Linked DNA regions of Homo sapiens: all the other regions are reported to be linked to region 3. Evidence: microRNA targets listed by miRTarBase, many of them from high-throughput screens and not tested one by one. Region 3 holds a microRNA gene; each other region holds the end of a gene's coding sequence. Distances are from middle to middle.

Region 1 (4,132 bases), 46 Mb from region 3:
AGGTTTGTAACATTCTTTTCTGTAATTATAATTCCTATATATCTTAATTATATACATGTGAATGGATTTAAACTTAACTTTGGTCCAATTATAATAATCTTTTATTTGTACATGTTGCTTGCTTAGCTAGATTTCCTTACTGAGTAACTTTTCTTCAAGAATGATTCATGGGTCCTGTATTTCTAGAACTCTTTTATGTTCAAAAATACCCATGTGCTGCCTTTGTACTAGAATAATATTTTGACTAGGTTTAATATTTTTAGGTCAAAATTTGTTTCCCTAAGAACTGTACACATGTTGCTTCACTGCCTTCTTAGATGCTTCTGGTCAAGATAGAGGAACAGGGACCATATTTATCCTCCCTCCTGAAACAATTGCAAAATAAGACAAAATATATGAAACAATTGCAAAATAAGGCAAAATATATGAAACAACAGGTCTCGAGATATTGGAAATCAGTCAATGAAGGATACTGATCCCTGATCACTGTCCTAATGCAGGATGTGGGAAACAGATGAGGTCACCTCTGTGACTGCCCCAGCTTACTGCCTGTAGAGAGTTTCTAGGCTGCAGTTCAGAGAGGGAGAAATTGGGTACAGTGGGACAGGCCTTCAACTCTTGTTTTATTGAATTTATGAACTTCTTAAATTCTTCTATGGCAGGAGACATCTATGGGGAGGCTTTGTTTGTTTTTTGAGACAGGGTCTCACTTTGTCGCCCAGGCTGAAGTACAATGGCCTGATCTTGGCTCACTGTAACCTCTGCCTCCTTGATTCAAGCAATTCTCTTGCCTCAGCCTTCTGAGTAGCTGGTATTACAGGCATGCACCACCACACCCAGCTAATTTTTGTATTTTTAGTAGAGACAGGATTTCACCACGTTGGCCAGGCTGGACTTGAACTCCTGACCTCAGGTGATCCACCTGCCTTGGCCTACCAAAATGCTGAGATTACAGGCGTGATCCACTGCGCCCAACTTATGGTGAGTTGTCTTTTGTCCCCTGAGTTATATATCCTTTCAGGATGGGTTCTTCATCTGGCTCATGTCATATTTCTTTTCTACATTTTTCCCCATTGTCTTTCGCCTAATGATCAGAACACTTATCTTTCTAATGCTTAATCAGGGCAGCTGGGTAGAGTCTTTCTTTTTACCTTAAGATAGTATAGAAGGGCTCTCTTTGACAACTTTCTTAGATGAAGTAGACTAGTTTGGCTTCTTCTCCAGTGTATAGCTGGAGGCCTGGGTGGTGTCTTCCATCTACTTTTGTGTAGCCTGATATGATCTGGTGTGAGATGAGGCCCTCGCTGTTAACCTGGTTTCTACTCTTTATTGTTGCCTAGGAACTTCCATTAAATCCACTGAATTCCATGAAGGAGGCAAAGCATCCAGGAATAAGACACAGCCCCCTTCATTGAATTCATGTGAAATCCTGGAAAATCCCTCCTGTGTCCACGGAGAGTCCCTGGGGACAATCAGGAGTTTCTGTGCTCAAGGGTCTCCCTGGCATTTCCCTGAGCTGCCTGCTCAATACCTCCGCCACCACCCTTCAAACTGGCCATATTAACAAGAATTCTGGTTTTCTTTTCTTTATGTGACATCTATTCATGACTACACTGGGCAGATGAGATAGTAGCTATGCCTTTATATAAAACTTTTAAATTCTTTTTTTTTGTTTTATTTATTTAATTTTTGGAGACAGGGTCTTGTTCTGTCACCCAGACTGGAGTGCACTGGTATGATCATAGCTCACTGTAACCTCAGACTTCTGAGGTCAAGTGATCGTCCTGCCTCAGCCTTCTGAGTAGCTAGGACTCCAGGTGTGCATCACCATTCCCAGCTAATTTTATTTATTTATTTATTTGTTTGTTTGTTTGTTTGTTTTTGTAGAGACAGGGTCTCACTATATTGCTCAAGCTGGTCTTGAACTCCTGGGCTCAAACAATCCTCCCACCTTGGCCTCCTAAAGTCCTGGGATCACAAGCATGAGCCACCATGCCCAACCTTTTCTAGTTTTTAAATTTTCATACATATCTATTAGATGTTTATAGTGTAAGGTTGAACTCCATTCTTTGCTTCTCTGTTGCTGGTAAATTTTTGGGTATATTTTTACTAATTTTGCACATTCTTTTACATATTGGTAAAGGAACAGTCTGTGATCTGGATTTATTCAGATCCTTATTCAGAATTACCAATTGTTTTATTAATCATTTTATCTTAAATGTGTCTCTACTTACTAGTGATTTGCAGTATATTCCAAGTTAGTTGTAAAAACATTTCACAATAGACTAATTTCTTGCTTTCCTGTGAAATTGTCTCAAATTTAAAAAGTAAAGTTCTTAATATTGTAAGTAGCTGCCAGAAATAAACCAATTCTAGCTTCAAGTTCATACTTCTTACAATGAGAATTTTAAATTTCTTTATTCTTGGGAAATAGCAGGGCCTTGCTGTTTTTAATAGTGAATTAACTCTGAATTTTTTAGTTTCTGTCTCTCAGAAAAGATGGATTTGTTTGGCTTTAAATATTGAGAGAGTTTCTAGAGACCCACAGGAAATGAGAAATTTGCACTTTTGTAGCAATGGCTTTTGAAAGACTAGCTAACATCCTGAAGACTCAGCAGAAGAAAGATATTAAACTGACTTTGTCGTTTTGTTGATTATTAAATTAAATGGAAAAACAAAATGTAACCTTTGAGTCCAATAGACTCATCCCCCTAGGCTCTCTATCATCTTCAAATCAATCAGTAAAACACAGTGTGCCTCCCTGGGGGACTGTGGCAGTCTTACCTTCATGTAGTAACCTAAGACGCTCCATAAGAATAAAAAATCAGAGCTAAGGAACAGATTCCACATAACCAAAAGGCTCACAAAAAGCATTTTAAAATATAGTGATCAAAAACACTAATGTCGTTAAAAGAAAAAGCAGAAAATAATAAAGTAATATAATGTGGTCTTGCAAAAAACAGTCTGTGATCTTACATTTCAAAACATGTCTTGCCCGTTCCCGGCACCTACAAGGCCAGATGAGCTACCTGCTCCATCCTTCACATTCTCGCTGCACGTCCCATTCAAGCTCTTCTGCAAGTGGCCATGTTAAAAATTTATAAAAATATCCGAGTCTGCCTGGCACGCTCAGAGATTCTCATGACAAGTTCTTCCCTCACTGAGCACTTCCCTGACCACCCAAAATAATCACCCCCTCCATCTACCTACACACATGTGCACGTGCGCGCGCGCACACACACACACACACACACACACACACACACACATCTCTGAGTCTCACGGTCCTCTAATTACTGATATCCCTTTTTACCATGGGAAATTCCTTGTCTATCTGTGTATTTGTCAGTGGTCTGTCTCTGCCCTAAAGGAGGAATCTTACATCGATTCGTTCTCAATCCCCAGCACCTAGAAAAGTATGTGACTTAATAAGTGAGTGTGTGCTTACATGTTTGGATTAAATGGTTTCACAGTTAATTAGAGATGAGAACCACTTAATTGTTTCTTAGGCTTGGGTTTCCTGTCACACAGAAGCCTTCAGAATATACAGATGTCTTTTTGCCCTAGAAGCCAAACAGAGCAGAAGATTGTAGGCCCCAGCCGGTGGGGCTACTCCTGGATTGATTCCAAACACGATATTTCTTTCCAGGCCTGAAAATCGACAGACACTGTCCAACACAATGTGATCGGTTAGAACATCCGACGCATCACCGATCTGTAGTAACAGATCAGACTCCTCATGGAGCTGAGACAGTTTTCTCTTCCTCATTGCTGTTAGAAGCCTGTCTTTATATTTTTCCACTTCACTTGCTTTGGTGAAAAGCACAGCAATATCCTTCGGAGAATAACCATTCCGCAAGAGAAAACGGCATTTATTCGCTACATAGATCAGTATCTCCTCCAAGTTCAAGTCTTCAATAATCTCTAAGTTGCCTGGGACACCTTGAGCCCATTTAGGTTCATAGAGCATCACCAGGGACCCAGGGGGGAGGTTAGGTGGAGGATTTTGTCGGGCTTCCTGCATTACTTGTTGTAGGTAATTAGCTATTGGACCTGCATTGCGGACCACTCTGTTGATCTCTTCTCTTGGATACTGGTCTGAGGGAGGGGGGAGGCCACTGCAACTCAAGTG
Region 2 (4,132 bases), not on the chromosome of region 3:
GGCGCCCGGGCCAGCGCGCGGACAATGACCCCTTCTCCCCTCGCCGCCGCCTCCTCCCCGACACCGCCCCCTCGCAGCTCACAGGCAAACCTATTAGCCATTCAGGCCGACAAAACCCCGCGGCCCCGCGCATTGTCCCGCCGAGCGCCCGGCCGCCGTCATTAGCCCTGATTACGCAGAGCCGCCTGACAGCCCCGCCGGCCGCTCCACAGACCCCCCATTCACGGCCGCCCCCGGGCTCCGCCTCACAAAAGGAGCGGAAATCGTCCGCGCTCTCGCGTCCCCGTTGAATAGAGCGAAAAGCTGCTTCTCCTCTCCTCCCGCCCCATTCACATTCTCTTTGGATACAATATTTTTTTCCTTTTTGTTAAAATTAGGGAGAGGGAACGAGGTCAAGGAAGACTTTGCTTGAGCTCTTTGCCTGTCATTTGTTTAATGTAAACAAAGAGCAAGCCCTCCCCACCCCCATCGTCTTCTCCCCTCCCTCCCAGATTTTTTATAAACAAACTGGCGAAGGGAAAGGAGGGAGTGACGGGTGGAAGTGGAGTGGGTCATTAAAGTGGAGGCGAGAGGAACTGCGGCATTTGGGGAGCAGGGGCCGTCGTTTTTTTTGGTGAAACTGGAGTGTGGTTGAAATGTTTATAAGCCGGAAAAGAGCCTGACCTGGGGCTTGGGGTAAAATCTTCACATTGGTCAGGTCCGTTGAAATATTTAATATAAAAATGCTCTTTCCACTCTGCTGGAGTAGCTGCTTTTTGGGAAATTGTGACAGAAGAATTGCAGGAAAAGAAAGGAAGGAAACCCATTATATAGAGATTTTGCCAAATTCAGAAACCTTCAGCCTTGCCATTACCTGGACTTTTTTTCCCCCCAAAACCCTGAAGACCAGAATGAAGCTGATATGGAAAAAGTCTTAAAAAGAAACCCTTTAAATGTCCTTGGGAAGATTGGAAAGATTAAAATAAAATAAATCTCTGTGAAGATCTGGACTAATTTCCAATATGTGGTCACCAAAGAATTGGTTATTCACAGAGGCAATTAGGTGCCATCACATTACAGATAAACATTTAAAAAAATCTTACAAGTAATGTGTCACCCCCTTAAGATTCTAAAGTGAAATTAAATAAATAAATATCCAGATTGTTGAAACAGAATAGCTACTTTAAAATGTAGGCAGCTTGTTAATTTAAGTAAATGGTAGCTGTAGTTTAAAGGCTTTTGTCAAAGCAGGAATTAAAAATGCTCCATCACTGTTTGGTCTTCTCTTTTTGTCCAAGCAATAAACTGTCACTTAAAAATTATTTTGTAAAGAGAAAGCTTAGTTTCTTAGTTACCCTATTTTCTTGACACTGCGGAATGGACATTTTCTTCTGCTTTTAGGTATCATTTGAAGGGGTGGGTGGAGTGGGATTTTTAGAATCTCAAATTCTTTTACATTATTCCACTAATTAGTTATTTCCCATCCCTCTAGGACTTGGAAGCATAAACTTAAGAGAAAATTTGCCAACAAACTTCTCCAAACACTGGTTCTGGACAGCCCCATAGCTAAGGGTGGGGTGGGGCTGGGGAACAAGAGTGGATATCCGTGGCTACTCCTTGTCAGATTAAGGACTAGGATGAGGCAAAGGAGGCACTTAGAGTGCAAAATTTAAGGAGGCACTCAATCTCATGTGCCTTGCACTTGCTGCACTTGCATAACCTTGACCGTGAGTCCCCTCCTGGCCTCACTCTAGTCCTCGCCAGCCCCTCGTTAGCATTCTAGGAACTACCTGGGGCTCTAGGAAACAAAATTAAGTACTGAGGAAGCTCTACAATGGGAGCCTTTCAGGACCCACAGGAGGGCTTTTGCTTGCTTTTGGAAAGAACACCAGTTTTATCACGAAAACTTACCCACTCCTTCCATGTAAAGCTCTTGTGCAAGAGAGTTTTGATTTTCAAGAATTCTCTGGATAAGGGCCACCATACACAAGGACAACATTTATAAAGCCCAAATGAGCCAAATCTATTCAAGCGATTTAGAAACCAAAAATCAACCCTTACTCTGTCCTGGGCTTCCATTGTCTATCTTGCCGTTTGGCTGCTTTTTGTCTTCCATGACTTCACTTATTTTTGTTTGGTTTGCACTTTGGCACTTCTGCCTAAAGAAGTTAGCAGGCTTCTGATCCAAAGAACATCTTCTAAGGACAGAAAGGCAAATGGAAAAGGCTGTAATTGGGGGATGGGGACAGTAAAGAGGGAAGTCAGCTCAAGTGATTTAAAGATCAATGTCAAATTTTATAATATGCAATCTGTTTCACTAGGAACAAAATTAGAGACTCTGGCTAGCATTTATTTTCTTAGTGCAAAGATGGTAGATGTTTTTGCGTTGTATATGCATGCATTTGTTCATGTATAGGTGCATACATGCATGTGCACGAGGAAAAATTAAATGCTAAAAATATTTTATGTTTTAATCGAGGCCATTACCAGGACAATGAGGCCCTTGATGACTTGTTCTATGCTTAATTCGGAGATTAGGTTTTTAAAATGCCAGTTATTTCTACAGCCTTGTTTTACCCTCAGTATGTGACATGATTACATCCTTTCCCCCATCTCAGTATCCCTCTTGTTAAAAACCATTCATTTGATTAAAACCAAATTCTGCAGCAAGAAGATGTTAGTCTAATTATTTACAACCTCTTCTATCATCTTTTGTCTTATTTTAATAATAGCTCAATCCTAAATGCAGTATATGCTCACTCTAGCATGATCATGGGTGCCTGCTGCTTTTGTATTGGAGGGGGCCTTGAAGGAGACAGAAAGCCTTTCTTGCTGCAGAGCCTGAGTCAGGATAGTTTTGCATTTTTAGAAAATAGGACTCACTTATTGAGTCCCATAGTTTGGCTTCCTAAATTGCTCCTGAAAGCTGTTGACACTTCATGTAAACGAGTGTCAAGTGGACAAGCCATAATTACCTGTGCTGGGGATGCGGGGACTTGCCTTAGAGAGGACGCTCACATGTTGCCAATTTCTAGCCTTAAATATATCACGTGTATGCATACATACATATGTTTGTATAGGTACATACATATGTTTGTATAGGTACATACATATATGCACATACGTGTAATTTGACGTGGGAGGTGGTTATAGACCTACCATAGGTTGTTTAAAACATATACCAGGAAGCACCAAAGAAGGCAAAAGATATATAGGTAAGACCTTCCGGAGACCATTTGCTCAAGGGTCCCTGCATGCCTGGTGAAGGGAATGATATTAATAATAATAAGAAGAAAAGGAATCTGAGAGCAGCTCCCTTAATTAAGAAGGTTGCCCACTAGGTTGTTTTATTGTTTGGCTTCTCCACACAGAACCCATCACCACCAGCCTGCATGTTTAGAAACAGCAAGTTCCCCAAGCTACAGAGAAACCTACCATGGCGGTCTCTTAAATAAGTAAATAAACAGCATATATATGTTTTGTTAAAAAAAAACTTTAAAGCGAAAGTTATACATATGTAACAGCGTCCTTTCGACGTGAAATACCCATGGGAGAATCTGGGCAGGCGCTCAGCTTGCAGTTCGGGTTCCGAAGGAGACTTTGCAGCAAAATCCTTAGGAAAAAGCAAAGCAAGAAGAACGTGGTGCTGGGTCAGGCCTCACCGCTGGTTCCCGTGGTCGCGGCCAAAGGGCGCCAGTGAAGCCAGGCCGGCCGCGGGGTGGGGCGGGAAACGGCAACCCGAGCCCGCGGGTCCCTGGTCACCTGGCTTCTGTGGCGCTGGATTTGCAGGTCTCTCATCTTCTTCCCCTCTTTCATTTTGTTTTTCTCGTTTTTACACTGGAATCTGCTTCTGAGCATCCTGGATGGGCAACTCAGATGTCGCACTCGCTGTCGCTGGACGTGATGGAGATGGCTGAAGTGGCCGCCTTGCTGGATAGACTGGCGGCCGGGCTGGTGGCGACGCCCAGCACCTCTGGCGTGCCGTCGCCCTCCGCCCGTAGTGCCCGCCCGGAACCCTGTGACAGGACCTGCTGCTGGAGTCTACGGGGAAGAAAGGGAACACGGGTCACAGCTCGTAACACAGCCGCCCGTCGCCCGCCCCCACCACCTCCTGCGTCCCTCCAGCCCGGCGGCTAGAGGTTCTTCCGAAGAC
Region 3 (4,299 bases):
GCCCAGAGCAGGGGCAGGGGCCTGGCCGGCCCTCAGCCATGGCCACTCTCACCACACTGCTCTCCCGCAGACGGCGCCCCGCTCAGCGAGCTGTCCTGGCCATCCTCCCTCGCCGTGGTGGCTGTGTCTTTCTCCGGGCTCTTCGCCGTCATCGTCCTCATGCTGGCCTGCCTGTGCTGTAAGAAGGGCGGTATCGGGTTCAAGGTGAGGCCTGGGGGCCGCGGGAGCTGTCGTGGGATCCCGCAGGCAAGGCCTGTAGCGTCCACTTGACCCTGAGCTTCCCTCCTTCCTGGGGCCATCAAGGTGGCTGCTGGGTGGCCGTAGTTGCTGTGGGGCCACCTGGGGACCACGTGGACCCTGGCCCAGGGACTCCATAGCTCCTCCTCAGGGACCTGCCCCAGCTTCCTCGACTTTGAGGCCCTCTGTGGGGGGCGTGGTCTGACGCTCCCACTCCAGCCTGGGGTTGGGCCCGAGCACTCACGGAGGCTGAGGACAGCCTTGCAGGGGGCGTCGGGGGCTCTGGAGCTGGTGTGGGAGGGGGCTTGCCTCCCTAGAGGCCCGACTCCTGGTGGAGGAGCTGCCTCTGCAAGGGGCTCTCACGTCCCTCCGAATTCAATCTGCAAAGGGGAGTCCGGGCTGCCCAGACAAGCTTCCCGGCACAGGGACCTTCTTGCCAGTTGGAGTCACCTTGCGCGGGGTATCTTCTGCCTTCTGGAGGGGACGATGTGTGATGCTAGAGCCCAGCCTGCTGGTTAGGGAGCCCCGCCAAGGGTGAGGCCTGGCCTCACTAGGCTGCCCCTCTGGAGGCCAAGGCCCCTGGCCAAGGACAGGTGCCAAGCACTGCTCCTCCCCCTGCAAACCCCCAGCCCACCTCCAGCTGTAACTCTGAGCAGCAGGGAGGGCCAGGCAGAAGGAACCCCGGCCAGCATCGCCTCCCCCTCCCAGAGTCTCCATGGGTCCCATTCCTGCTGATGAGCAAATGACACCCTGGCCTGGACCTCTGGTGGTTCACACGCCCACGGGGGTCAGCCCCACCCCTGGGCCAGAGGTCAGATTCCTACGCCAGGAGAAGTCAGGGAGGGAGGAGGGTGGGAGGAGGCATTCTGCAGCGCGCACAGCACCCTGTCTGTATCTCAGGGTGCCTTCCTACTAAGTGACCCATGACTCAGCTGGCGCCACCCCCATTTGGGAGACAGTCCCAGAGTCCTCCCTGCCCCTGGTATGTCATGACGCAGAATGGGCCAAGGAGCTGGCTCTGCCCACCTGTCCCGCTGGCCTGGCAGGTGACGGTGCTGGATGTGGCCTTTTTGCCTTTTCTAAAGGCCACATTTTCCAGCCCATTCAACCTTCCAGAGCCCTCTGAAGTGGCCACAGGCCCCATCAACCAGTGAGGAGCTGCGTGCCTGGGGGGCAAAGCTGTGGCCCCAGGCTGTGGGGTCTGCACTCCTGCCCAGAGCCCCCACCCTGCTCTGGGATGTACCCCTGACCCGCTGGCACCAGGGGCCAGGCCAGGCCGCGCAGGCGCCTTCCTGGGGATCCCGAGGCCAGAGCCTCAAGGTCTTGGCGGGAGCAGGAGTGGAGGTGGGGCCTGGGTGGGACGAGTGGGGCTATTGTATAAGTGGCCCCTCCTTGGGGCACTGTAAGAACAAGGCCCCAAACAAGGGCTGGCCATAGCTCCTCCTCCTGCGCCCTCCTCACCTCCTTGGGAACATGGTGCCCGGAACATTCCAGCACCAGTGTGCCCCTGGGAAGTCCTGCCTCCACACTGGGCTCCCTCCTGGGATTTGGGGACCTGCGCTGGGCTCCCTGGTGGGGAGCTGTGCTGAGGGAAGGGGCTGGGCAGGCCCCCAATGCTGACCCTGTGCTACCTGATTGCACGCTGTATCGGCAGGACCCGGCTGGCCCCCGGGCAGCAGGTAATGCCTGGAGCCCGGGCCCGACCCCAGGGAGAGACAGCATCTGTGTCCTGGGCCCCTCTACAAAGCCCAGATGGGTGGGGCCAGGCCGGGGCTGGGATTGGAGGGCCCAAGAGGGGGCTTCTGGGGTGGTCTTCTGGGTCCCGGGGAGGGGAAGTTGCCCACGCAGCACCTGCGTCCCCCATCCCTGAGTGGCTGTGTGCTCCGAAAGGGCAGGCTGGGCCTGGCCTGCGGGAATACCGACAGAGCCACCTGCCCCTCTCTTTGCAGCCCAGGGAAGGGAGGCGTCCCCAGGGTCACACGTCGTACTTGAGGAGCCCAGGCCTCCCCTCCCACTGCACCTGCCTGTCCTCGGACTCACCAGCCCGGGTGCTGGCCAGCATCCAGCTGGAAGTCCCTTGACTCCTCTGAGCCTCAGCTTCCCCACCAGGGCACTGGGGGTTGTGAGGAAGGACAGAAAGGCTGTACCAAGTGCTCAGGGATTGGGGCTGTCATTGTGTGCCTGGAGCAATTGCTTTCAGCTGGGCCCAGGACTTTGGAGACTTTGGCTCTCAGCGCAGGAATGTGCCCTGGACTTGGGGGTGGGGTATCCCCTATACAGGTGCAGCCTCTACATTTCAAAATAGCAGCCTGGCAGGGAGTGGCCCAGCCCTAGGCTGCACGGGGCCAGGCTCTTAAGGAGTTCTGGGAGCTCCGGAGGTGGTGTGGCCACCAGGTGAAGGTCCAAGGCTGCTGGGGCAGATGGCGGTGGCAGGTGGGCTGCCCAGGGTAAAGGTGGCCGGTTGGCTCTGGGCTCCCAGACATCCAGGAATGCTCCTTGTCCCGGCAGGGGTGGGGGCACTTAATTGCTTCTCCCACAGGACTGTGGGGCAGGGGGTGATGGAATTCCTGTCCCCGAAGCTGCGCCATGGGAGGGTGGGACCCCAGGCACAGCCCGGGGTGAGGGGCTGCTCGGGATGTGGGTGGCTGAGAGGTGCTGGGGGCTGATTCTGGATGGGCAGGGCCAGCTGGCCTGAGTGCCCTCACCTCTGTCCCTTGGTTCCCTGCCTCTAGACCCTCAGGCCCCAAGGTGGGGCTCAGCCTGGGCTGCCCGCCAGGGAGGGATGGGGGAACTGAGGCCAGGCTGAGGCGCTGGTGCCTACAGCTCATCGCGCCCTTTCTGGAGTCTGAGATGGGTCCTCTTGGCTCTGGGATCTGCCTCTGGCCCCTCATGGAACAACTGAGCCTCTGGTCGGGGGCGTGGGGGTCAGCAAGAGGAGACAGATGGAAGGGCAGTTAGCAGGGGTGCTGGGCCATTGGCCTGCAGGGGCGGTGGCTCCAACTCTGGGCCGAGCACCCCCTCCTGCCCTGCCCTGGGAGCTCGGCCCTGGAAGAAAGGGGCCTTTCCAGGCCCAGCCACACCCTTCCTTGACCTGCGAGAAGCCCCGCTCATGCCCGGCCCGGCCCGCAGGAGTTTGAGAATGCGGAGGGGGACGAGTACGCAGCCGACCTGGCGCAGGGCTCCCCGGCCACGGCAGCACAGAACGGGCCCGACGTGTACGTCCTGCCACTCACGGAGGTCTCCTTGCCCATGGCCAAGCAGCCTGGGCGCTCAGGTGAGGGCTGGGTGGGGAGATGGGGTGGCCTCCCTCCGGGGCCCAGGTGCTGGGCGTTGGGTGTGATCTGGGGAGACCGGAAGACTCAGCTCTGGAGTGGGGGCAGCACAGGGCTGGGAGTGGCCTGTGGGGTAGACGCAGTGTGCAGCCCTGGACTCCCTGTGGCTGCGTCACAGGCCGCACTGTGGGGCCAAAGGTGCATGTACCTCTTTCTCCTGGGCCTGGGGGCCGGCCAGGGGTTGGCAGGGTCCAGGACAGCCCTCGGCCTCCAGCCTCCCCTGCCCAAGGGGCTGCTATGCACAGGGACAGGGGTGGGCACGGGGCAGGGGTGGGCACTGGGGCAGGGGTGCGGGCTCTCTGGTCCTGGACATGGCCATGTGCTGGGGGCAGGGGCTCTTCTGCAGTCCAGGGATGCTTGACCCCAGATTCCTGCCCCCTTGAGCGCCAGCCCTTCAGGGACACGGGTTCCATTGTGCATGGCAGGAGGAGGGGCGCTGGTGGGGCCCGTGTGGGCGGGTGGTGAATTAGCCTTTCACTCAGGCTGCGAGGAGGGGCCGAGGGGTGGGGCTGACCCAGGAGTGCAGGTGCAGGCAGGGCCTCAGCCACAGCCTCATCTGCCCCCATCCTAGGGTCCTAGGCCGACCACTCACATGGGGCGGACGTGCTGGGGAGTTTGGGGGTGAATGGCCAGGCTTCAGGACCTCCCAGTTCTGTCTTGGAGCCTAGGTGGTGGGTGCGGGTCCCTCCAGAGCTATCAGATCTCAAGCCCCCTCCCAGGAAGCTTCCAG

Evidence for each region. The annotated mature microRNA hsa-miR-1250-3p reads ACAUUUUCCAGCCCAUUCA and lies in region 3 at 1,326-1,344, shown strand. An mRNA with a match to its seed (bases 2 to 7 or 8) in the 3' UTR can be bound and repressed. Matches are read on the target gene's strand: a 7mer-m8 pairs with bases 2 to 8, a 7mer-A1 pairs with bases 2 to 7 and ends in A, and an 8mer does both.
Region 1: the mRNA of SLFN5 is a reported target of hsa-miR-1250-3p. Seed matches in the 3' UTR shown: 7mer-A1 at 2,205-2,211.
Region 2: the mRNA of SIX6 is a reported target of hsa-miR-1250-3p. Seed matches in the 3' UTR shown: 7mer-A1 at 3,792-3,798.

The regions. Positions count from the first base shown.
Region 1 is chr17:35,265,280-35,269,411 of GRCh38, reverse strand. SLFN5 (schlafen family member 5) reads right to left here. Exons shown (of 5, transcript NM_144975.4): 5 at 1-4,132. The coding sequence ends at 3,524. Among named protein-coding and RNA genes, the nearest start is that of SLFN5, 24 kb to the right of the region's middle.
Region 2 is chr14:60,510,972-60,515,103 of GRCh38, reverse strand. It overlaps SIX6 (SIX homeobox 6), which reads right to left. Exons shown (of 2, transcript NM_007374.3): 2 at 2,254-4,020. The coding sequence ends at 3,852. It also overlaps a transcript of C14orf39 not described here. Among named protein-coding and RNA genes, the nearest start is that of SIX6, 3.9 kb to the right of the region's middle. RefSeq lists a silencer at 1-22 and enhancers at 1-245, 3,319-4,090.
Region 3 is chr17:81,130,273-81,134,571 of GRCh38, reverse strand. It overlaps MIR1250 (microRNA 1250), which reads left to right and starts at 1,264; the gene lies at 1,264-1,376. AATK (apoptosis associated tyrosine kinase) reads left to right here. Exons shown (of 14, transcript NM_001080395.3): 2 at 71-204; 3 at 3,367-3,511. It overlaps LOC124904079 (a long non-coding RNA gene), which reads right to left. Exons shown (of 4, transcript XR_007065937.1): 2 at 1-176.